Homo sapiens: one gene and its partners. The protein of the gene in region 7 purifies or fractionates together with the protein of the main gene of each other region. This does not show direct contact. Each region holds a gene or a part of one and is shown on either strand. Other genes may lie near its edges. The genes, in order: TSEN2, ZNF195, SLC25A13, MADD, IQSEC1, LOXL2 and MELTF.

Evidence for each region.
Region 1: the proteins of MELTF (region 7) and TSEN2 purify together in Homo sapiens (affinity purification with mass spectrometry; one large-scale study listed by BioGRID and IntAct). This does not show direct contact.
Region 2: the proteins of MELTF (region 7) and ZNF195 purify together in Homo sapiens (affinity purification with mass spectrometry; one large-scale study listed by BioGRID and IntAct). This does not show direct contact.
Region 3: the proteins of MELTF (region 7) and SLC25A13 purify together in Homo sapiens (affinity purification with mass spectrometry; one large-scale study listed by BioGRID and IntAct). This does not show direct contact.
Region 4: the proteins of MELTF (region 7) and MADD purify together in Homo sapiens (affinity purification with mass spectrometry; one large-scale study listed by BioGRID and IntAct). This does not show direct contact.
Region 5: the proteins of MELTF (region 7) and IQSEC1 purify together in Homo sapiens (affinity purification with mass spectrometry; one large-scale study listed by BioGRID and IntAct). This does not show direct contact.
Region 6: the proteins of MELTF (region 7) and LOXL2 purify together in Homo sapiens (affinity purification with mass spectrometry; one large-scale study listed by BioGRID and IntAct). This does not show direct contact.

The regions. Positions count from the first base shown.
Region 1 is NC_000003.12:12,531,819-12,534,158, reverse strand, and holds the end of TSEN2 (tRNA-splicing endonuclease subunit Sen2), read right to left. Parts: intron 1,498-2,340; coding exon 1,438-1,497; 3' UTR 501-1,437; downstream 1-500.
Region 2 is NC_000011.10:3,369,147-3,372,646, forward strand, and holds part of ZNF195 (zinc finger protein 195), read right to left. Parts: intron 2,558-3,500; coding exon 2,431-2,557; intron 1,925-2,430; coding exon 1,829-1,924; intron 1-1,828. UniProt on the Homo sapiens protein: May be involved in transcriptional regulation.
Region 3 is NC_000007.14:96,312,099-96,315,598, forward strand, and holds part of SLC25A13 (electrogenic aspartate/glutamate antiporter SLC25A13, mitochondrial), read right to left. Parts: intron 1-3,500. UniProt on the Homo sapiens protein: Mitochondrial electrogenic aspartate/glutamate antiporter that favors efflux of aspartate and entry of glutamate and proton within the mitochondria as part of the malate-aspartate shuttle.
Region 4 is NC_000011.10:47,322,133-47,325,632, reverse strand, and holds part of MADD (MAP kinase-activating death domain protein), read right to left. Parts: intron 1,963-3,500; coding exon 1,798-1,962; intron 1,369-1,797; coding exon 1,296-1,368; intron 1,163-1,295; coding exon 1,056-1,162; intron 372-1,055; exon of another isoform or gene 300-371; intron 1-299. UniProt on the Homo sapiens protein: Guanyl-nucleotide exchange factor that regulates small GTPases of the Rab family. Converts GDP-bound inactive form of RAB27A and RAB27B to the GTP-bound active forms.
Region 5 is NC_000003.12:13,066,930-13,070,429, forward strand, and holds part of IQSEC1 (IQ motif and SEC7 domain-containing protein 1), read right to left. Parts: intron 1-3,500. UniProt on the Homo sapiens protein: Guanine nucleotide exchange factor for ARF1 and ARF6. Guanine nucleotide exchange factor activity is enhanced by lipid binding. Accelerates GTP binding by ARFs of all three classes.
Region 6 is NC_000008.11:23,306,621-23,310,120, forward strand, and holds part of LOXL2 (lysyl oxidase homolog 2 precursor), read right to left. Parts: intron 3,292-3,500; coding exon 3,048-3,291; intron 1-3,047. UniProt on the Homo sapiens protein: Mediates the post-translational oxidative deamination of lysine residues on target proteins leading to the formation of deaminated lysine (allysine).
Region 7 is NC_000003.12:197,016,318-197,019,817, forward strand, and holds part of MELTF (melanotransferrin isoform 1 preproprotein), read right to left. Parts: intron 3,485-3,500; coding exon of another isoform or gene 3,288-3,484; exon of another isoform or gene 2,636-3,287; intron 974-2,635; coding exon 786-973; intron 53-785; coding exon 1-52. UniProt on the Homo sapiens protein: Involved in iron cellular uptake. Seems to be internalized and then recycled back to the cell membrane. Binds a single atom of iron per subunit. Could also bind zinc.

The DNA of each region.
Region 1 (2,340 bases), about 180 Mb from region 7:
CGATGTGGTGGGTGGCCTTCCTTGTTAACCACCACCACCACCAAACAGGGCTCTATTTCTGACTGCATGCAATTTTTAGGATAGCGCCATTTCAGCTGAGATAGTGATCTCAGGTCCAGTCCTCCACGTGCATGACTGGTAGTGATGCACACCCGCCAACATCTCTGAGCTTCAAACACCCCTCTGTGGGTCCCTCCTCCTGAATTCACAAGGCTGCTGCAGGGATAAATACACAGGCATCTGCCGCATCTCAACTCCCACTCTCCAAATGTTTGCTATCACGGTTTGCAAAATATTTTACCCCATATTGGCTATCCAAATTAAATATAACAAACATGTAAGGGTTTGCAGCAATATCATTCAAGTAGTGTCTGGACCCATTAAGAGGATACAGCTCAGGCTACCACCTTAGCCTAAGTATTCTACCACCGAAGAGCAAGTATTCCCCCTTCCCATTTCCCCACCACCCACATTTTTTTTTTTTTTTTTTTTTTTTTTTGAGACAGGACCTTGCTCTATTGCTCAGGCTGGATTGCAGTGGCACAATCTCCGCTCACTGCAACCTCTTCCTCCTGGGCTCAAGCGATCCTCCTACCTTAGTCTCCTGAGCAGCTGGAATTACAGGCATGTGCTACAATGCTTGGATAATTTTTGTTAGTAGAGAGGAGGTTTCACCATGTTGCCCAAGCTGGTCTCCAACTCCTGGGCTCAAGCGATCCATGCGCCTTGGCCTCCCAAGGCCTCCCAAGTGCTGGGATTATAGGTATGGGCCACCATGCCCAGCCACCCATCTCCCTCCTCTTGCCACCAGATGCCCTGAGGCAACTTAAGTCTTCATGACTTTCTCACCAATTACAAAAAGGCTTTATTATATTTTGCCAAATGTTAATCGCTTTCATTATGTCTCCAAACATTATTTCACCACTCATTTTTATAACAAGTGCAGTGAAGATATGCTTATCGAATATTGTACAATACTGTTGTGTTCTGTAACACTCTTTCGGGAACAGCTTAGATGTAGGTAACAAGAGATGCCTGCGTATGAAAGTGCTTCATAAACTGTACTGTATAAATGTAAACTACTACCATTTTCAGGTAAAATCAGAGAATAAATGTCTCTTGTTGGAAGTGTCCTCTCAGGACTCCTCTAGTCCAATCTCCCCAGTGAGTGGATGAGGGAAAAGACTGACGCCAGAGGCAGGAGGCTCTGGATTGGAGAGTTAGAGGCCAACGCAAGTATAGAATCTGCAGTCCTAGCACAGGGATCTTTCTCCTCCCTTGTGTAATTTATCTTTAAAAACACTGATAGTTTTCTGGTGCTGGGAGCACCATGCCCTTTAAAACTTATGAATTAATGGACGATTACAACAAAAAGAACTTTTTACCTAGCCCTCAATAAATAGTTGTTGGTGAAATTAGAAATTTGAGGTTGAATTGTTAAAGATCGTCTTGGTCACTCCTCTCTCGTGAAGAAACCCATCGACTCAGAATCACCTCCTACAACCAATAAAAAAAAAGACCATTTCTTAAAACAGAAATGTAAGACCATTCTGACACCACAGCTGACACCACAGCTACATTTCACAAAGGGCGGTCTATATAATGATGATACTGTTCCCACCTTTAGAACAGAAACATCTGGAGAAAATGAATGTAACAATATAAACCTTACAAGCATACAGTATCTACTTTCACCAGGCAAAGATTTTAACAGCTAAGCTTGCCTCTGCTGTGGTATTCTACTAGCACATTTCAGAAACAGGTGGGCGGGATGAAAGCTAGCATTTTACATTAGAGCTAGGTCTGTGATGGCATTGCTGTAACGGGGCCAGCTACTGAGAAGGGAGAAATGAGGTTGATGAGCATTTTATGAGAAACTAGCCTAGTGGAGATAAGTGGGACCAACTGAAGGGAAGACGTGCTGGGGCCCTGGAGACCGACCAGCAGGTCTGCAGGGGCAGGGTGGTGTGAAAAGAAGACAGGACGACAACAAAGACATACTGGATGTTGGGAGGAGCCAATGGCAACGTTAAGGCTCTACACACAGAGGGAGGGAATGCAGAAACACGGACACACACTAGACAACTCGGCCAGACCAGAGAGAAACAAGCCAAGATGACAGGAGGCGCCTTGGTTCAATACAGAAGCCCAGAAGCAGGAACAAGTCAACAGGGACACCTCTGGTCTCTGGGAATGAGACCTGTGAGAAGTCCTGGCCTGGCCAGGGGGTCACAGGCCACCTGTAAGAGAGCAGTTTCAGCTGAGTGATGGGGACATCACAGGTAATAAAGTGGGGAATTAAGGAATAGAGGAAGTCAGCATAGATTTCGTGTCCAATGG
Region 2 (3,500 bases), on a different chromosome or scaffold from region 7:
AGTAACATATTAGGGCTGTGCAAAAGTAATTGTGGTTTTTGCCTTCTAAATAGTAAGAAATACTCTTACTTTTGCGCCAATCTACTAACAATGTTGATAAGGATGTAAAGAAAAAACAATTCTGAACGCTCAGAGTTCTCAACTGGTAGAGTCATTATGAAAACCAGGGTGGGGGGGCGTTATTTAAAAGTTAGAAAAAGATAAACCTACCCTGCAACGCAGCAATCACACTTCTGTGTATATAATAACTGAAGGGAATAAAAGCAGCATCTTGAAGAATTATCTGCTCCCTCATGTTCACTGCAGCATTATTCACAATTGTCAAGATATAAAGACAAGCTAAACGTTTGCGGATGCTGAATGGATAAAGAAAATGTGATATAAATAGACAATAGAATATTACTCAGCCATAAAAAAGGAATGAAATCCTGTCATTCAACCACGTGGATGACCCTGAAGGACATCCTGCTAAATAAACTCAGCCAGGCCCCAAAGACAGAGACTGCACGTTCCCCCTCAGACGTGGAATCTGTCGTGGCTGAACTCACAGGAGCAGAGGACAATGGCAGTTGCCAGGGCCTGGAGTTGGGGAAAATGAGCTGTTGTTCAAAAGGTACAAACTTTCAGTTGTAAGATGAGTAAGTTTGGGGAATCTAATGAGTAGCTTCACGAATACTATTAATAATCTTTTGTATGCTTAAAGTTTGCCAACGGTAGACATTAACTGTTCTCACTACAAGAAAAGGTAATTACGTGAAGTGATAGATTTGTTCCTTGAAGTGATTGCACTAATTATTTCACAACGTATACACATATCAAATTATTACATTGTACACAATATATACACAATTTTTATTTCTAAAATAATCTGTTACACATATGCCCACATAGACACACTGTATATATGTGTGTGTATATATACATGAATGGATAAAGAAAATATGATTTAAATAGACAACAGAATATTACTCCAGCATAAAAAAGAATGAAATCCTATCATTTCAAAAGGATATGTTGATATATTATATATACACACATATATGATATATACACACACATATATACACACATATATACACACATATATACATATGCACACATACATACATATGAATGACAGAGTCCTGATAAGCCTCATACTAAAAAAGAAGAAATTATAAAATGATAATATTATAACTATTACAGTTGGGAGTTAGGGAATATAAAGTTTAAATGACCAACCTCAGCTCATACTAAAAAAAATAAAATAAAATGTTGAAGTAAAATAACATTAGATTATCTCATATTTGGGCAGATGCCTAGTGTTCGGAGAAAACTGCTGAGTATACATTTCTGTAGACTCCCATTTGAAACCTCTGTAGGATACGAAATCATAAAGCAGAAAGCATACAACATCTGTTTACGGGACTTCTGGGATTTCTGAACCAATCACCATCACCACGCCTCTCGCACACTTCAGACATGATGCAAAGGAAATCAAAAAACATTTAACAGAGTTCCTCAAAAACAGGCAGGTACAGGCATGTTCCCAAAAGCAGTGGCGGAGCACGCCATGAGACCACACAGGCCCTTACTCGTCAGGAGGAGGACTCTGATTTTTACTGTAACCTTTATAAAGGAAGATCACTAAACAGGAAGCAGAGTCTATACAAAATTTGAGAGAATGAGACAGAAGACGCTCCTAGGGTACAGCAAGAGAAAGACACCCAGGCTCTCAGAAACCATCTCCACTAGGGCAGAGCTTCTCAAACCACATTTTAAGGTCTGGCTTCCTCCTCGACCTCTGGACCTCTCACCTGGGTTACCTGCTTCGTTCATTCCCACCCACCTGGATGTCCGTCTGCTGCCTCCTGTCTCTTCACATTCCAGGGCTCTTTTCGTTGCTCCAGGCAGGTGATCAGGCCTGGCTTACAGACAGTGAGACCTGTTTTATTAGAAAAAAGTGACATTACTCTTGCTGAAATTCTCCAATTATCAACCTTGTACTGTGCTTAGTAGAGTGAACATTATATAAGATTCTAGAAAATTAATCCCAAAATTATGCTTCCTGACATCACCTTTAGAATATTCAGTAAGTATTTTAAATCTGTGGGTTCTTAGTTTCACCACTCAGTACTGCTGACATAAAAAATTGGTGGTGGAAATTTGACTTTAAGTTGTGGGCAACAATATTTCATGCCACTGAATTTCTGGAATTGTCACTAGAGTGAAAGATACAGATCAGCTGAAAAAAAAGGAAGGTTTATGTCAAGATGAACCACATTTTGAAGATTTTTTTTTTTTTTACATCAACTATTCCCCATGTTTTTCTTAAAAGCAGGGATCTGAAACTCATTCATGCAACGCAGAAACTCCCAAAAAACATTCCGCAGAGGAACGAAAGGAACTCTTTAGGGCATAGGAGGAACTACGTATTGAAGTTATCCTCACCAACGGAGAACAAGTTTCTGTAGTTCTCCAACATCACATCCCTGTACAAATTCTGCTGAGCGAGGTCCAGGCATTTCCACTCCTCCAGGGAGAATTCTATGGCCACATCCCTGAACGTCAACAGAGTCTGAAGAAGAAACAACAACAATAACAAATACTTGATTCGAGGTGAAATGAGCGAGTGAAGAGAACTGGTTCTGACTTACACAAGTGACTGAAATTATACAATAAGGTAATTCTTAGCAGAAGAATACTCTCTAACTCTGAGGAAAGAGAATTGCCTGAGAGCCACATAAGCAGTGTATATACAATACTTTTCTGGTTGATAACAAGTATAACATTAAGGGCATCAACAAAGGCATGTCCATTTTTGAGTGCTACATTTACGTCACATGAATAAGCTGTGTATATTTCGCAGGCAGAAAAGTCATGGTGAGTTAGAAGCTGCCTCTCCAATTTTCATGTGTCCAATAAACTAGTGTGCAGATTTTGCTTCAGGAAATCGGAGGTCAAGGCTGAGTTTCCGAATTTCTAACGCGCTCACCAGTGATGCCAGTCCTTTGGGCCCAAGGACAATATTTTGTCAAAAATCCTGTAAGTGGCAAGCTTGGGTTTATCCCAGTTTTTCTAAACCATAAAGAGAGATGAGATTCTTCATCTTCTAAAGCAAGGCATATGCAAAAAGAATCTAAGAAGCAAAACCTTTCAGATTAAATGTGATTATTTATGCACATTAATTAGTAAATCTCCTCAAGGTACTTAAAAGAGAAAAAAATAAACTCCACAATGGAAAATCTGTCAGGGAGCTCTTTAAACAACTGAATAAAACTAATATCAACTGTAATAGGACAGATTTTTATCACGTGCCAATGCACAGAGAAGGACATATTACTGGTGTGATATTGGCCAAAAGGTCAATTATAATCTGAATCAAATCATACCGAAACCTTAGTGTTATGCAAAGTTCAAGAGACAAATAAATATCTCCCAGGTTCTGACAAATATCTCCCAGGTTCTGACAAATATTTCCCAGGTCCTGACAAATATCTCCCAGGTTCTGACAAATAAAT
Region 3 (3,500 bases), on a different chromosome or scaffold from region 7:
TGCATAGCAAGATAAATTAAAGAGGGCAATGCAGCACACTGGTTATGTGCTTGGGCTCTGGAGCCAGGCTGCCTGTGTTGAAATCATAGCTCTCCTATTTACAAGCCATGTGATCTTGGGCAAGTTATGTAATCTCTCTGTACCTCAAAGAACTTAACTACTCTGTACAAATGAGTTTCTCGATGTATATTATGAAGGTGAGAGCACTTACATGTCATAGGATTGTTATGAAGATTGCATTAGTAGATATAAAGTGCTTGGAACAGTGTCCGGCTTTTACAAGTGTTATATAAACATATGCTAATATTATTATTATTATTTGCATAACCTTTTTGAGCCTTAGGTTTCTTTATCTGACAAATGAGGTTATCAACACGTTCCCTGCTACCTTGTAGATGATTATAAAGATCAAATAATGAAGCTTGGGTCTTTATATTATCTGGTTATATTAATCCCTGAAGACTTTGAGCTTCTTGAAAACAAATCTAGTAGCTTACCTGTTTTTGGAATCCCAGCACAGTGTAGGCACTGACAAACAGTCGTCGTCACTTATGCCCTTGAATGCACTTTTTAAAGCTGCTAAGTACTGTACCCATGAACACGGTAGTGCTATTATCATGGCAACAAGAGCCAATCTTAGAAAAGTCCTTTGGCAGTCTGGACAGAATGGAGAGGAAGGTGTAGGGATGAGATCAAAAGCAAGGGGATCAGTGGGAGCTACAGCAATGGTACAGCTACAAAATAAAGAGGCCCTGAATTTGAACAGAGAAGATAGGACATACATGCTCCATGGCCGTAGAAGGGTTTCACTGATCCACCTCTTTTGCCACATCCAATTCAGGCTGATGGTGTCTCTCCTATCTGCCCATAACAGGTACTTAATTGAACTAACTAGAAACTTTATCAGGAAAGTGAAGCTGCAGGATGAAGTCAGGAATGACCAAAAAGATGGATTCAGTTATAAGAACTGGTGAGTTCTAGGTCAGCAGAGTTTGAAATATCTTTGAGACAGACAAGTTGAGTCTTCCAGCTCAAACTAAACAGCTAAAAGTGCAGGGCTAGAGCTTGAGACAGCCACCCAGGCTGAGGAGTGTTAAGGAGCCAATACCCATTAAGGGGGCAGGTAGTGCGGCAGGAACTGGAGGGAGGAGACAATCTCAGGCACAGCCTTGGGGGACACTAACCTTCCAGGTGTCCAGGCAGAATGAAGAGAAGCCCACAAGGCACAGCACTATTCACAGTAGCAAAGACAGGAAACCAACCTAGGTGCCCATCAATGGTGAATTGCATAAAGAAAATGTGGTATATATCCACCGTGGAATACCTTGCAGATATAAAAAGAACAAAATCATGTCCTTTGCAACAACATGGATGCAGCTGGAGGCTATGATCCTAAGTGAATTAATGCAGGAACAGAAAACCAAATATCACATGTTCTCACTTATAAGTGGGAGCTAAACAATGGGTACTCATGGACATAAAGATGGCAACAATAGACACTGGGGACTACTAGAGGGAGGAGGGAGGGGAACAAGGGTTGAAAAACTAATTATTGGGTACTATGCTCAGTACCTGGGTGATGGGGTCAACTGTACCCCAAGCCTCAGCATCATGCAATATATCCAGGTAACAAATCTGTACATGTACCTCCGGAATCTAAAATAAAAGTTGAAATTATTTTTTAAAATGTACATTTAAAAAAAAAGAAAGTAAGACCCTTTGTTAGATTCAGAAAAAGTGAAAGATTTCTAGATTTTTGCTAAAGTAATGCTTCTCAAAAGGTGCAGCATTAGTGCTGGACCTACATATACCTGACCTGTACAGGGAAGGGAAAAACACTACATTTTTGGCCAAAATTCCTCATTGGTAAACTAGTACATTCTGTTTTGAAGATTAGGGTAAAGTGTACTATCATTCTATATGCATATGTCATGCTGCTAAACACTAAAATAAAAATATATCTTTGCTGGGAAGAAAGAAGACGAAAGAAGAAAGAAGAAGGAAGGAGAAGGAGGAGGAAGAAGGAGGAAGGAAGGAGGAGAAAGGATGAAGGACGAAGAAGAAGGAAGAAGAAGAAGAAGCCTGCAAAGGAGAATAAAGGGGTAATATGAGATGCTAGAGGCCAATAATGAGAGGGGACATCATGAAAGCAGATGGCGAGAAAGAAAGGGTAGGACACAGGGTCATGTGAGGCCAGAAATGAGGACAAGCCAACAGGTTTAGAACTGAGGTTACTGGTGACTTTTAGGAGAAGGACATTTAATTTAGTTCATTTCACCCAATTAGAGGGTCTGTCTGGTTAAACAGGCCATGAAAATAGAGTTTGCTCAGTAGCTGTTAAATACTTTGCTAAAGGAATTGTATCACTACACAAAGGCATATCCCCCTCCTTACCTCCAAGCAGAACCAACACATGTCTCAGCGTCACACATTCCTCTGTTGCAAGGTCCACCCTAAGGCAAACCCACAGAGTCTTATGAGGAAATCTGTAGGTGTTTATGAGGCAGCAAATGCCAACCAGAGAGGAGGAAGCGCTCAGCAGGAATGCCATAATAGATAATCCTCACACATAGTGGAGAACAAAGGGAGGAATGGTTCCCTCTAAGAATTCATCAAAAGCAGAGACTGGTCATGGGACTAAAGGTCTAAGAGACCAAAGCACAGAGGAGTCAGAGCTCCTCGGACAATCTTCTAAAAGAACTCAATATCCAAAAAAGACCTGCTCCCTGACTTTTTTACGCTACATATCACCTTTCAACTCTCCCCACACCTTTCCAACCCTCTATTTGCTGTGAAGCCATATGACCTAAGCCAGGGAACACTGGCACCACATGGCCCTGGATGAGGTTAGCCCAGGAGAGGGCTCTGAGACCAGGTTTGCTCTTTGTAATGCTTCCCTCCTCCAGCACCTTCTCTGATCACAAAAAACCACTGAGACTCTGCAGGAGACAAATGGAGCTTTCAGTCAAGTTTGGGATTAAAACCTCTATTCCAGGATTATCACAAAACTGTATAAACTTGATGCCTAAGCACCCTGGAGACACCAGGCAGGACTAAGACAAAGCTGTCAAGAAAGAAGAGAAATTTGGAGAAACCCCTACATACCCCTCCTTTGAACTGACACACCAGGGACTTTAACTTAATCTCACTGCATTCCATTCTTACTCCAAGAAGGAGCCAGCAGGTCTCTTGAAGCAATGTGCACCAAAATAACAGTGGTTGTCAAGCTTTCAAAAATCCTGAGGCTCAGGCCACACCCAAGTCCAATTCAATCATGATCTCTGGAGGGAGACCCAGGCATCAGCAGTTTTTTATACCAGTCCAGAAGACTTCAGTATGTAGGGAATCACTGGCCTAGAGCAGTGCCAAAAGCAAAGGCATTCATGGGAATTTGGACCAATAACAAATGTTTCTGGGACTCCATTTCTAGGACTCTCCTGGTAAAAGGGGACAGGACTGAGGAAGGAAAGAGTAAAGATCATTGTGTTAACATAAATTCC
Region 4 (3,500 bases), on a different chromosome or scaffold from region 7:
TGGCTACTGCCCTAAGTCCTAAATTGAAAATATACTAAGGGGCTGCTGGCAGCCTGCGCAGCCATTTCCTGTTAAACCAAAGCTGCCCAGCTACGTTCCTGAAAGAGAGCTACAACGGCTAGCGGAGGGAGGGAGACAGCCACGTCAGTCAGGCATCCACCTCCCCTGAGGGTCTGCGGCCTGGCCAGGGTCTGTGGGGCTTCACACATTTGGGTCTGGCTCAGAGCCTCAGGGAGAGGAACCCGGACATCAGGGAAAGAGGAGGGAAGGCACTTGTGTGAGGAGTCAGAGCTGTGAACGGACCTGGGATGATGCGCTGGCCTCAGAAAGGAATTAGCTTAAGGAATGTCCACTGAGAGAAAAAGGTAACACTGTGTTAAAAGACCAAGAGAGAAAAAAAAAAGTCAGCTCCTATGGTGGAATTACAATGAGGGAAAGATGTATCCACAAGTGCTCCCCAATCAAAAGAAAGGGAATGGGGCCTGTGGAGCAGGGGACAGAGTGGGAACACTCAGAGGAAGGAAAAGAACAGGAAGAAGAATCCGCAGAAGAAAAAGGCAAATAAACACACTCCAGAGAGGACAGATACAAGCTACTTACACACAAGCACGCAGGCACGCACGCACGCACACGCAAGCTGCACGCACACCAGAAAGACACAAGGAGATCGGCCAGTCTAGACTCTCAAAGCAAAACCACCAAGCAGAAGCATATCCTGGGAATAGAGGAAGGCAGAGACACTGCAGGGGAAGGGCCAAGTGAGACGCTCCCACTCACACTGTGTGGAGTCCAACGGATGGGGCAGCGTGGCCACCTGGCCTCGCTCCTGCCCAGCCTCCCCCACGGGCTCCCTGGTGCACCTTCACAGCGCCAGGTGGTCGCCAACGTCACTGTGCCCTCCCCTGGGGTTTCTTTCCTGGGTCCAGCTGCTCCAGTTCTCCCTCTAGCTCCAGAGGGCCCTCTCTCATGCTTGCTGGGGAAGTACTGGGGGCTTGGACATTGGTCCTTCTTACAGATGGAACGACAGGGAGCCTCGTGCTGCCGCTCGCACCTACCTGATTGTGCATGAATTTGAGGTTGATCCCTTCCAGGGTCACCTGCAGCAGGCCACCCTCACCAGTCTTCAGGTCCTGCACAGGGAACTCGCCACCCAATTCAGGTCCTGTGGTGAGGGAGGGGGCTATCAGCTCACTGGTGAGGTGGGGAATCCCACCCCTGACTTCCCTGCCAGGCCCCTGACACTCAGAAGGACTGGTAGAAACAGGGAAGACACTCTCAGGAAAAACTCTCCTCACCGGGTTTGATGCTTTGCTGTCGGGCGGCAGCGCGCTCCATGCTGTCCTTCACACAGTAGTACAGCTCCCGACACTGTGGCACAGGGGGAGAGTGGTCCCATCATGAGGGCTGTCCAGGGTTCCCCACCCACTGCTCTATAATGGCCACTGAAGGCTGGAGGTTGAAGTGAGGGGTAAAATTTTAAGTAGTCCTCCTATTTTTCGGATGTCTTATTCATTGTTGAGGTTATGAATGATAGATCCGGAGCATATGAATAGTATGGCTTTAAAGAAGGCATGGGTACAGATGTGTAGGAATGCTAGATATGGTTGGTTAATACCGATTGTGACTACTATTAGGCCTAGTTGGCTTGACAGAGACAGCTTTAGGTACTCCACCCAACAGCTGGAGACAGAAGTGTGGCTCCAGATGTGTGTTTTGGAATTTTAACTTCCCAAAGAGAAATTCACTATTTGGTCTTCAATGCCTACTAGCCCCAACCCAAACACAGATCCTGCGTACCTTTTTAGTATAGAACTTGTTGAGCTGGGTCTCAGAGCCATTTCTACGCCACAAGCACAACACCTTCGTCTTGGGACAGTAGGTCATGTTGATGAGCTTCTCGTACCACCAGCGCTCATACACTGTTCCGATGTTACTACGCAACACCACACAGTCATCGCACACCTGGAGAAGTGCACAAAGCGGCTCAGTGGTTCCTGTCTCTGACAGCCTCTCCCTAGACTGTTTCCTACAGGGAAAGGTGGTCCTGGGGCATCCCCATGGTCAGGTTTTCTGCCTTACGCTCATGGTTTCCCTAGGTGAAGACACAAAACAGAACTACTGACATGCTGCCTGCTACAAGGATTGTTGGAAGAGATGGAGTCATTAGAAGGAACCGATGTATAAGGGAGGAGGCACAAATCAATCAGTTATTTATTACCTCTTTTTTTTTTTTTTGAGACAGGGTCTCACTTTGTACCCCAGGCTTGACTGCAGTGGCGCCATCTCAGCTCACTGCAGCCTCGACCAGCCAGGTTCTTCCTGCCTCAGCCCCCAAAGTAGCAGGGACTACAGGTGCACACCATCACATTGGCTATAATTTTTTTTTTTTTTTTTTGAGATGGAGTCCCACTCTGTTGCCCAGGCTGGAGTGCAGTGGTGCAATCTCGACTCACTGCAACCTCTGCCTTGTGGGTTAAAATGATTCTCCTGCCTCAGCCTCCCGAGTAGCTGAGATTACAGGCACACATCACCATGCTCAGCTAATTTTTGTATTTTTAGTAGAGACAGGGTTTCACCATGTTGGCCAGGCTGGTCTCGAACTCCTGACCTCAAGTGATACACCCGTCTTGGCCTCCCAAAGTGCTGGGATTACAGGCGTGAGCCACCGCGCCCGGCCCAGTTATTTATTACCTCTTATGTGCTCTACGGACTTAAAGTATTTGGAGGAGATCTCATGCCTCCATCTTACAAGCTCAGGAATCATCTTTGTTGACAAACACAAAGGTAGGAGATCATGACAGACTTAACCAAGGAGAAAAATGGAGCTGATGCACTTTCTAATCCTGGGTCTACCCTTTTTCTATAAAAATATTTTTAAAAATTAATTACACAAGTGACACATGAACAATGCTTATTACATAAAAATGATACAATACAGGATGATATAAATTAAAAAGCAAATATCTTTGACACCTTCTTGTTCAACATTCTCTTTCAGGTGAAGTTATCTGTTCTTCTTTTTGAGACGGATCTCGCTCTGTCGCCCAGGCTGGAGTGCAGTGGCGCAATCCCGTCTCACTGCAAGCTCCGCCTCCCAGGTTCACGCCATTCTCCTGCCTCAGCCTCTCGAGTAGCTGGGACTACAGGCACCCACCACCATGCCCGGCTAATTTTTTATATATTTTTTTAAGTAGAGACGGGGTTTCACCGTGTTAGCAAGGATAGTCTTGATCTCCTGACTTCATGATCCGCCCGCCTCGGCCTCCCAAAGTGCTGGGATTACAGACGTGAGCCACCATGCGCAGCCAGTTATCCGTTCTTAAGGCTTCAAATGTTACGGGAGACATTACAGCACAATGGTGAAGGGCACAGGTCTAAAGTCAGCCTGAGTTTAGATTCCAGCTCTGCCATTACTGAGCTGTGCCACCCTGAGCAAGTTCATCTGTGTCCACAATTCCTCACAGGTAAGATGGGGATAGTAACAGTAATAACTTCCTACA
Region 5 (3,500 bases), about 180 Mb from region 7:
TGTGAATGAGCCAGCATGCCTGGAGCTGCTGTGCCTGGCAGACACCACTCCTCCCACTCCCAGTCCCCTGTGTGTCGCAGCATAACCAGGAACTTTCCAGATGAGGTCAGAGGCCCAGAGAGGGCAAGCAGCCTGCCCAGGGTCACATAGTGAGGCAGGGACAGAGCTGGAGTGGAGCCTCCTTGTCCTGCTCTGTAAGGCCCCAGGTGGGCCAGGGCCTCAGAGACCAAGGGGCAGGATATTTTCATCCACTCTGCCTGCAGGGAGCCTCCTGGGGGTAAGAGTGAGATTTGAGAGAACAGGAGCCATCCAACAGGCTGGAAAGAGCGGGAAGGGCAGACGGGGGCTGTGTCGTCAGTAGGCTTTTGGGGGAAAGCAGCAGGCTCTAAGGTAAGCCTGGGAGCAGCTTAGCCAGCACCCAGGAGCAACGCCTCCTAAGCCCCCACTGGTGGTGACAAAACTGGTCTGGTCCACAGGCATTGGGTGGGGGGCTCCCAGCCACTGTGGGACAAGTACCCTCAGCACCCAGGACAAGCAGGCTGGGGGCAGCCATGCCACAGTGGCAGTGACCAACACATTCCAGGTAGTGCATGCAGTGGGGAAGGGGTGGGGAGGGACAGAGCCTTGCGGCCAAGAGATCTGGAACCTGCTCAGGGTAAGGCGTCAGGTCCCCCAACACCTGGGCCCCCTGACCACCCTCCTTCCCTTCCTCATCCCATCTCTGTGCACTGGGTGCCCACTGGCCCCACCCACAAGGGCACACAGATCTGGCTGGGGAGGAGCAGGGTCTGGAGTCAGGCAGACTCACTGGCTGTGACCCTGAGCAAGGCACTTCCCTGGAAAACAGGATGGCACACAACCACCCTGCCAGAGTTGTGGGATTCAACAAGATAAGGCACTTTTGTTGTTATTCTTAAAGACCAAGTGAGTCAGTGCAAGGAGGCAGGCCAGGGCCCTGAGGAGATGGTGCCAGGTCCTTTAGGGGCACAGGGGGCCTTGGGGGGCTTCAACAAAGGGCCTCCAGGGAGGGACAAGGATGGCGTGACACTTGTTGAGCTTGGGGCCCAGCCTGCTTGCTGGCCCGCAGGCAAACCCTGGAAGGGGAGTATCAGCCCCACCACATAGAGCAGGAGGCTTAGGCCCAGTGCCTGTGCTTGGGGCACTTGGGAAAAGATGCTGACCATGGGCTGACCAAGGCCCAGCAGGGTCCTGCCCCGGGGCTGGGGCCAATCCAGGCCTTACGCTTCCTCTGAGGCCCAGGGAGGATGTGGATGTCGGACCTGTCCTTCACGGATCCTTTGGTGGAAGATGGTGGCAGGTGGGTCAGAGGTAGGTGCTTGCCTAAGCAGACGCTACTTGTTGCCCTGCCTGTCCAGCAACTACCAGAAAAGTCTGTTCCTCTCAGTCTCTAAAATTCACCCCAGACAGGGTCTCTAAGTCCCAACATCATGCCAGGCCATGCCAGCTTTGGGTATACAACGGGGAGCAGGCCTGGGCCCTGGCCTTGCAAAGGGGCAGAGGCAGTGGCCAGGCCTCTGAATTTTCAGGCCCCAGGCTCATGACACCCCCTCATGGTTGGGAGGCCCCAATGCAGTTCCCCAACCTCTTTAACCCCCAGTCTTTTCTTCATATCTTTAGCTTCCAGCATGACGATGTGACTCTTTACTCCAGGGCCTCCATGAACAGCCCCAGCCCCTTTACCTCTCTTCTTGGTCCACTCTGCTCCAGCAACACCATCCTCCCTCTGTGGCCCAATCCTGTCAAGCATGCCCTCACCAGGGCCTCTGCACTTGCTGTCCCCTGCACCCGGGGCCCCCACTCTTCTCCTGGATAGTTCCTCCTAATCATTTAGATTTCTGTTCAAAGGTCACCTCCTCCAGGAAGCCCTCCTCACTTCCTGAGTGGCCACACAGTTCACTCAATCCATTCCCATTGGGCTCTCTATCTTCTTCATTTCTCTGTGTCCTTCTCCCCTGCAGTATCCCCTGAGAGCAGCACCCTCTCAGTGGTTCCCAGCACTGAGCTGGACATACAGCAGGTGCACCATGAACACTAGCTGAAGGCAGGGAAGTGAAGGCCCAGGCCTGGTTATGCGGCCTTGGCTGCATATCCCAGTCTTTCTGAGTTATAACCAGGACCTGCCCAGTGGCTTCCTGGGGCTGTAAAGGGTGGATAGATGCTACAGCATTCTTGGAAAATAGCCCAGTGCTGTGTGGGTCATTCATAATAACCATTTTTAATAGTGATCACTGCATGGCAAGAAAGGCTACCGGTCATCACACGTGCTTGAGTGAAGACTGGGCCTCCGGTTCCCTCCCTGCATCTCTCTCGGTGGGCTGGGGCTGCTCTTCCCTGGCATCCAGCCCAGGCCCACTGTCCAGCAGATGCTGATAACTGTGCCTGCAGAACTGACCCAGCCAAGGTGATAATGGTGAAGGCTCAATGCACAAGTTTCTTGGAGGTGTGTGTGTGTGTGGAATGTTCCAGGCCCAGTCCCACCAGTGTCCCTTCTTCTGTCTAGGGGAGACCCACCAGGGCTTCGCTTCCTTCATGAAGGCCCCACTGCAAGCAGCAGGTCAGGGCATCCCACCAGAGGGAGACCACTGCCTCCTGCGGGGGCCGGCAGGTCATCATGTCCCCCAAACAGAAGGAAGAGAGGGGTCGGGACAGTTCCAGGCAGTGAATGAATGATTGAACAGGCATGGGTAGGCGAGTGCTCCACTGGCCTGGCCAAGCAGCCCACATCTCACACACCACAAACTCCTCACAGCCTCACTTCCTGTGTTCAAGTGACAGGATGTGACATGCCCATGAGGACAGAGGGGCCCCTTGCAGAGATGATGAAAAGGATGCTGTAGTTACAGAATTGAGGGCCATCCTTCATTCAGACACCATTCATGAAGCTGCCAGTACAGCAATGACCTCAGGTGTTAGCAAGTTTGATTCAGGGTCTGATTCTTGGAAGCCTCCTGATGTTCCCCCATTGGGTTAAGAAATCTTCTCCTGCTTTTGTTGTCATCCTTTATCCCATCCAGTGTGCCACCTTCACGATGGACTGAGCCCTGACCGGGACAGAGTCTCGATTCCATAAAGCTCCCTTGGGTGCACACCAGGGGCCCAGAGAGTGGAAGTGGCGAAAATGGAGGCTAGGGAGTGAGGACAGTGGGGTGGGGGTGGGGGCCCGCCGGCAGGGCTCCACTAGGCTGAGGATAGCCTGGCTGTGCCATGCACAGGGCCGCTGGAGCAAGTCTGTCCCGATTTGACATGTGGCATGCTGGGGAAGGGACACCACTGCCAAATGTACGGCAGGAAACAGCTGTGTGACCCCAGTCAAGTTCCTTCCCCTCTCTGAGCCTCAGTTTCCTCTTCTGTAAAACGGGATCGACAGTATCACATTTTACAGCAGTTGGTGAGACCCCATGAGGCAACTAAGCATGAGAACGCTTTGCAATCAAGTTGGGCAGCTCTGATAGTGGCTACAGTGCAACTGTTGGGAAAGT
Region 6 (3,500 bases), on a different chromosome or scaffold from region 7:
GGTGGAGTGAAAGGGAGTCTCTCCTCTTTGCAGCAATGCCATCCCTGACCCGGAGGACTGTCATCTGAGCTGGAGCCCACACGCCCTGCTTCTCCAACTCCTAGCTCCTCTCCTGGGATTCCCCCGAGGTGGGAGAGCCAAGCCCCTTGGCCTGTGGAGCCTGTTGTGCATCTGTGCCCCATGCTTTGTCCTGTCAGAGCGTGGCACATCGTGCCAGTTGAGCAGCGGTGGCCCCACAAGAGGCAGGAGAGAGAGGCATGGAGACCATCGGCCAGGGCACAGTGCACATGAGACAGAATAACTCCGGGGGCACTTTCCTCCAGGTCTGGTTTTCGAGGAAATTTCCAAGGGGGCCAATCTTTGTGTTTCAGCCAAGGGCTTTCAAAGAACAGAGCTCTCTTCCCCGAGGTAGCGTCAATTAAACTGGAAATGGCATTTTTTCCCATTCCCACTAATTTGAGCCAGGGTTCTCAAGCCTGGCTCCAGATGGCCTTCAGAGTGTCTGCAAATCTGCTGACATAGGCTATTAAACTTCTAGAAATATTTGTTTTGAGGAGAGGAAGGGCCAGCTCTCATCAGCTTCCAAAAGGAACCCAACAGATGTTTGAGGCCAGGATCCTGTTCCTCCCACAGCACCTGGAGAAGTCACCTGGAGCTCGAGGTACTCCTCTTAAGGTCCCTAGGATCTTATGGTCATTGTTTCTCAGCTGTGGACCAGGAGGGGGAGACCAGAAGGTACATGTGCTCAGCATGTCCTTCCTTCCCTCCCATCCCCTCCCAAGCCACTGACTAGAACATCTGTAAACAAAGAAATAAAATAGACCACAGGAAAAGTGGGGGAGCAGGGGGTTGGGGAGCAGGCAGGGAGCCAGGGTCTCCAGATCAGAAGAACATTTCCAGGATGTCACCATGTGCCTATTCTTAGAGGAGACCAAGTCCTTGGAGCGTAAGTGTATGGCACAGGGAGGTTCCTACCATGTAATCTGTGGGTGGGCTGCCATATGCAGGGCTGGGATGCAATTATCTTCTGCTTATAGACCCATAGGCAGCGTCAGCCCCCGCCGCCCAGGGCTTCCACCCACACGTTCCCCGAAGGGAGCCAAGCACCAAAACCGTCATGACTTTAACTCTACTGACTTACAACCTGAAGAAGACTAGCCTGCTTCTCTATAAAGACCACACCTTCTTGGGCTAATTAGGACGTTCAGAATATTCAATTGTTTGAATGGAAAATCAGCACCCCTGAATTCTACCATAGTCCTTTCTTGTGAGACTAGTGGAACAACTATCCCAAAACTGATTTGAATGTGACTAGGTCATCAGCTGCGATATGAAAAAAAAAAAAAAAAAAAAGCCAAAGATAGATTTCTGATGAAGAGTCAGCAGACAAAAAAGAAAGAGCATGTAGTTTGGAGTCAGACAGGCCCGAGCCGGGATTCCTGCTCTCTGCAACTCCTAGCATTATCTTGGGCAAGAGACAACTCCAAGCCTCTGTGTCCTTTTCTAGGAGAACGAAGGTTCCCTAGGCCTGACACTTAGAAGGGGCCAGGACATGTTAGTTCTGCCCATAACAGTGATGACCACATTCCGGAGCTGCAGCGGAGCCTCAACATCATCTAGACAACGGCTTCTCACACTGCAGTGTGCACACGGTCACCTGAGAATCCTGCCAAATGCAGATGCTGATGTGTCGGTCTGCCACGGGCCCTGGGATTGAGCAGGTCCCAGGCTCTCAGGTGGTGGCAGATACCTCTGGTCCAAGGACCTCACTTTGAGAAGCAGGGATGTGGTGCAAAGGCCAGGTTGTATAGATGGCCCATCCAAGTGTGGAGAAGGGCAATGACTAGGCCACGCCTGTAGCCCCTCGGGGGCTTCCTGCTTTATTTAGTGGTAGAGGCCTGTCTCCCTTCCTTTCCAAGGGTGTGCCTGCTTCTCTTCCCTCTACCCACCCAGTTCAGGTCTGAGCAAAAAAATCCCTGGACATACAGAGACAGCAGGCTCTGGATTAGATTAAGAGTCCAGGCAAAAAAGGGAAAACAAAGAAACAGAGGGAAGGTAAGAGGATGAGCAGATGGCTTGTGGTGGCTCTAGCCAGGTCTGGCTGTAGGATTTCACCCTGTTCTTCTGTCCTTGTCTGGGATTTGCAGCGCTGGGATCAGGTCCACAGACTGACAGAGCTGGAAGGGACAGGCGAGGTCCCAGGTGATGCCGCCCAGCTGACCTGACATCATGCAGCTCGCTAGAGGCACGGCTGCGTTTAGAGACCAGGTCTCAGGACTCTTGGGCCTAGACTTCAGTCTCCACACCCATTGTCTTCCTAGAGGTATTTAAAATACATACCAGTACGTGGAATATATATATATATATATATTTTTTTTTTTTGAGACAGAGCCTGGCTCTGTCGCCTATGCTGGAGTGTGGTGGCGTGATCTCAGCTCACAGCAACCTCCGCCTCCTGGGTTCACGCCATTCTCCTGCCTCAGCCTCCCAAGTAGCTGAGGCTATAGGCATCCACCACCATGCCCGGCTAATTTTCGTATTTTTAGTAGAGACGGGGTTTCACCGTGTTAGCCAGAATGGGCTTGATCTCCTGACCTCGTGATCCGCCCGCCTCGGCCTCCCAAAGTGCTGGGATTACAGGCGTGAGCCACCGCGCCAGGCTGGGAATATTTCTAAAGGAATTTAGAGTCCAGCAACTGCACAGCCTGGAGTACCTGGCAGCACACAAACCTGTGGACACACTTGGAAACCATGGGCTGAAGGTCAACGAGGAGGGTATGGGCGCTCAAAACAAAGTGTGTTTCCTGATGTTAGAAGCATTGGAGGCAGGAAGAAGGGTGGCAGGCCAGGGGAACTTGGAGTGGAGAATGGCTTCGGGAAATCTGACAGCCAGTGTGGCAGATGCAAGCCCCCCACTTAGGAGGATCCTATCCCCAGGCCATGCAGCCTCTTGGCTCTAAGTGACCCTGGCAACTCTCAACTCCCATCTGAGGCCTGCAGGATGTCCGCCGGGCAGCTTAGTGGGGAGGGTGGCCAGCCAGGCCTACCTGTGACAGTCGTGCCAGATCCACGCGTGGCGGCCGTTCTTGGGCCGGAAGTCGGACTGGCCATTGTTGTGGATCTGGGAGGAGAAGCGCAGGAGCCGGCGGTAGCCCGTGGTGGGGTCGGTCTGCGCGGCTGAGGCCGAGAGGCAGTTCTCCTCCATGGCACACTGCAGCATGAACATGGGCCGGTCCTCCAGGTAGGTGGTCTGCTGCACCATCTCCGCATTGAGGACCAGGTCAGGGGCGGCTGCGGAGGATGGCATGCTGGTCAACAAGGCAAGAGACCCCTCCCCAGGGCTTCTACTTCTGATTCTTGAGCTGGGACAAACCCCCTCTCCTGCCTACCGCCACCTTCTGGAATGACTCAAGGGCTCCTCAAGGTTACCTTCTTGTTTAGCAAGACCCTGAATTCCTCTTTTCCTCTGCTGTGAGTCCTCTTTGACAACTCTTCAGTTA
Region 7 (3,500 bases):
AGGCCTCAGAGCTGAACATCTGGAAGCTGCTGCCCTCGTGGCTGAACAGACGCTGTGTGTCAAGGGGTGTGGTACAGGGTGGTGAGGGTGCTGACAGGCCATATCCTTCCCTCCCACTTTGGCCCCTACCTCCTTCTTCCCCGACCTCAGACCAGGCACCCACCCTGAGGGCCAGGTGAGGCCTCCCTCTTCTGCGGCGCCTCCCCTGATCTGCGGCCTCCTTCCCCTGGGCCCTGTCAGTTCTGGGTCTACTCTGAGTTCATTTGGCCTCCTCACACTCAGCTGTTTGGACACATGGCTGTGGCCAGGCATGGGACGGTCCTGAGGACACGCCGTGGGGCTGGTGGTAGCAGCCTGGATAGGGCAAAACTAACTGAGCCTGGGGCACCAGCAGTCAGAAGTCTATTGCTGTCACAAGCGGCGGTTTTAGCCAAACCTTATTCGCCACATGTAATTAATGGTGTGCTTTGAAAGGCGCTGGTTTTGTTACTTGGTTTATTTGCTCATATGTTTTGGTTTTAGCTCTCAGAGACACAAGTCTCAGGAGCTTCTTCTGAGGGTGCCTGAATCCCTGGGTCCCCCTCCTCTGGGCCCCCCTCTCCTGGCCAGCCCTCCTTCTGGCCAGCCAGCATAGTCGGTTCCTCACTCTGACCTGGCCCGATGCTGGGGTCCGTCCCAAGGACAGTCTCTGGGTCCTGCCCCTCCTGGTCCCACCCTGCTGAGCGACCACAAGGCCCGGCACCATCTAGGAAGCTGTGCAGGTGGTTGGGGGACCCTGAGCCCACCTGGCCTTCGTTGAGCAGCCGGAAGATGAGGCCCCCATCTGTGTCGGCCCGGACCACCACGGCGTGAGCAGGCACCCGGGCCAGATGGCACTGCCTCCACTCGGTGACATCGGCCCGGCTACCATCCCGGCACAGCAGCTCGAAGTCCTGTGACAGCAGGGCCTGGCCCCAGGAGGGAAGCGTCTTCCCTGGGAAGCAGGAAGCCTGGGCTGAGCCAGCTCCGAAAGGGGTTGGGGCGGGTGGCGGGGAAGGCCCAGGAGAGGGAATCTGAGGGGTGGCTGGGTGTCATGGACATGAGAACCCAGCATTCAGAAGGTGGCAGAGCTTGGTGGCCGCACCCAACTCCAGGTACCTACACAGACTCTATCTCGTTACTCTCATTTTCTAGCTCTCACCAATTTCTATTGCTAAAGTGAATTGGAGGTATCTGACAGTAATACAATACTTATAAATAACTATTCAAGATAAAAAAAGTAAGAAAATAAGAAAGGCTGGCCGGGCGTGGTGGCTCACGCCTGTAATCCCAGCACTTTGGGAGGCCGAGGTGGGCGGATCACGAGGTCAGGAGATCAAGACCATCCTGGCTAACACGGTGAAACCCCATCTCTACTAAAAATACAAAAAATTAGCTGGGCGTGGTGGCGGGCGCCTGTAATCCCAGCTACTGGGGAGGCTGAGGCAGGAGAATGGTGTGAACCTGGGAGGCGGAGCTTGCAGTGAGCCGAGATCACGCCACTGCACTCCAGCCTGGGCGACAGAGCGAAACTCTGTCTCAAAAAAAAAGAAAGGCTTTGGGTGAGACAGATGAATGTACCAAGAGTCTAGGATGAGCTTGCGGCTGCCATGAGGCACTGCGTTTGGCTCTGAGCAGGGGGCAGGGGGCAGGGCTCCCGGAGCAGGGGCCACGGTGGAAACAAACCCCGAAGGAATCTACCCACCCCAGGACTAGAGAGGACGGGGGATCTCCCATAACTCCAACTATTCATATTGCGATGGATTTCTTTCAAGTCCTTTTTTCTATTTTATTTCCTGTCTTTTGACCTCACCCCCCCTTTTTCTTTTTGAGACGGAGTCTGGCCCTTTCGCCCAGGCTGGAGTGCAGTGGCACGATCTCGGCTCACTGCAACCTCCACCTTCCGGGTTCACGCCATTCTCCTGCCTCAGCCTCCCGAGTAGCTGGGACCACAGGTGCCCGCCACCACGCCCGGCTAATTTTTTGTATTTTTTTTTATTAGAGATGGGGTTTTACTGTGTTAGCCAGGATGGTCTTGATCTCCTGACCTCGTGATCCACCCACCTCGGCCTCCCAAAGTGCTGGGATTACAGGCGTGAGCCTCCACACCTGGCCTTTTTTCTCTTTTTGAGATGGAGTCTTACTCTGTCGCTCAGGCTGGAGTGCAGTGGCATGATCTTGGCTCACTGCAACCTCCGCCTCCCAGGTTCAAGTTATTCTTCTGCCTCAGCCTCCCGAGTAGCTCAGATTACAGGTGTGCACCAAGATGCCTGGCTAATTTTTGTATTTTTCCTAGAGATGGGGTTTCACCATGTTGGCCAGGCCGGTCTTGAACCCCTGACCTCATGATCTGCCAGCCTCGGCCTCCCAAAGTGCTGGGATTACAGGCGTGAGGCACCGTGCCCAGCCTCCTTTTGACCGCTTTTAACCTGGTTAAGGACATAGTTGACAGGCAATTTTGCATCCTATTTGGTAGAGTATTTTTCCACAGTATTGGAAACTTTCCATAAGTTCATTTGTTTCTCGATAGAAAAGAAAATTTGCAAGAGTAACTATTAACACCAAACAGGGATATTGAGAAGACGAATATTAAGGACTATAATTAAACCACAGATGGTCCCACATAACAATATTTTTATGACCTTAAGACAAGGAGGAAAAAAACCTCTACAAGGAAATAGGAAGAAAAAAGATAATTTGTATGGTCATGAAAGCTTTCACTGCAAAGCTATTTTAAAACAAAACCAAACACCCGCACCAGAGTGATCGTTTAGGAAAACTCCCTAAAGGTCATTGTTAATGGCCACATGGTAGTTTACAGCACTGTTAATGATTCAGTGTAGTCCTACCCCCGCTTCCCAACTTTCCTGTTTTTCGGCGGCTGCAAAACCTTTGGTTAGAGCTCTGGGGCATCATTTGCCTTCCCACAGACAAAGGCATCATTTAGGTGCTTCCATCAGCCACTCCCGCTTCTCCTCAGCCAAGAACAATGAAAGTCCTGTCACTTCCCTGCTTTAGACATTTATGCCACTTCTACCCCTTGGCTCTTACCAATCTTTCTGTATAAAGTCACTTAAAAAATGACTCCCTTAGATTGCCTCAGATTACCATCAACACTTTGAAAAAGCTGCCAGGTGCACGCCTGTCATCCCAGCTACTCAGGAGGCTGAGATGCGAGGATCAGTTGAGGCTGGGGGTTTGAGACCAGCCTGGGCAACATGGTGAGACCCCCATCTCAAAAAAAACCCCAAGTTTGAAAGAGCTGATTCTTAACCCAACATATCCCTACTCTTTGCCCGTTTTCCAAATTCTCCTTTGTCAGACTCGTCCTGGGGCCTGTGAACGGGAGCCCATTTCCAGGCTTGCCCAGCACTAGAGCGCATCGTCCTACGTGCTTCCTCGTGTGCAGGGCACTCGCCTTCTTCCTCCTCAGATCTGGTCCATGTTTGCCTTCGTGATGGACTTTCTGATTTAAAAGGCAA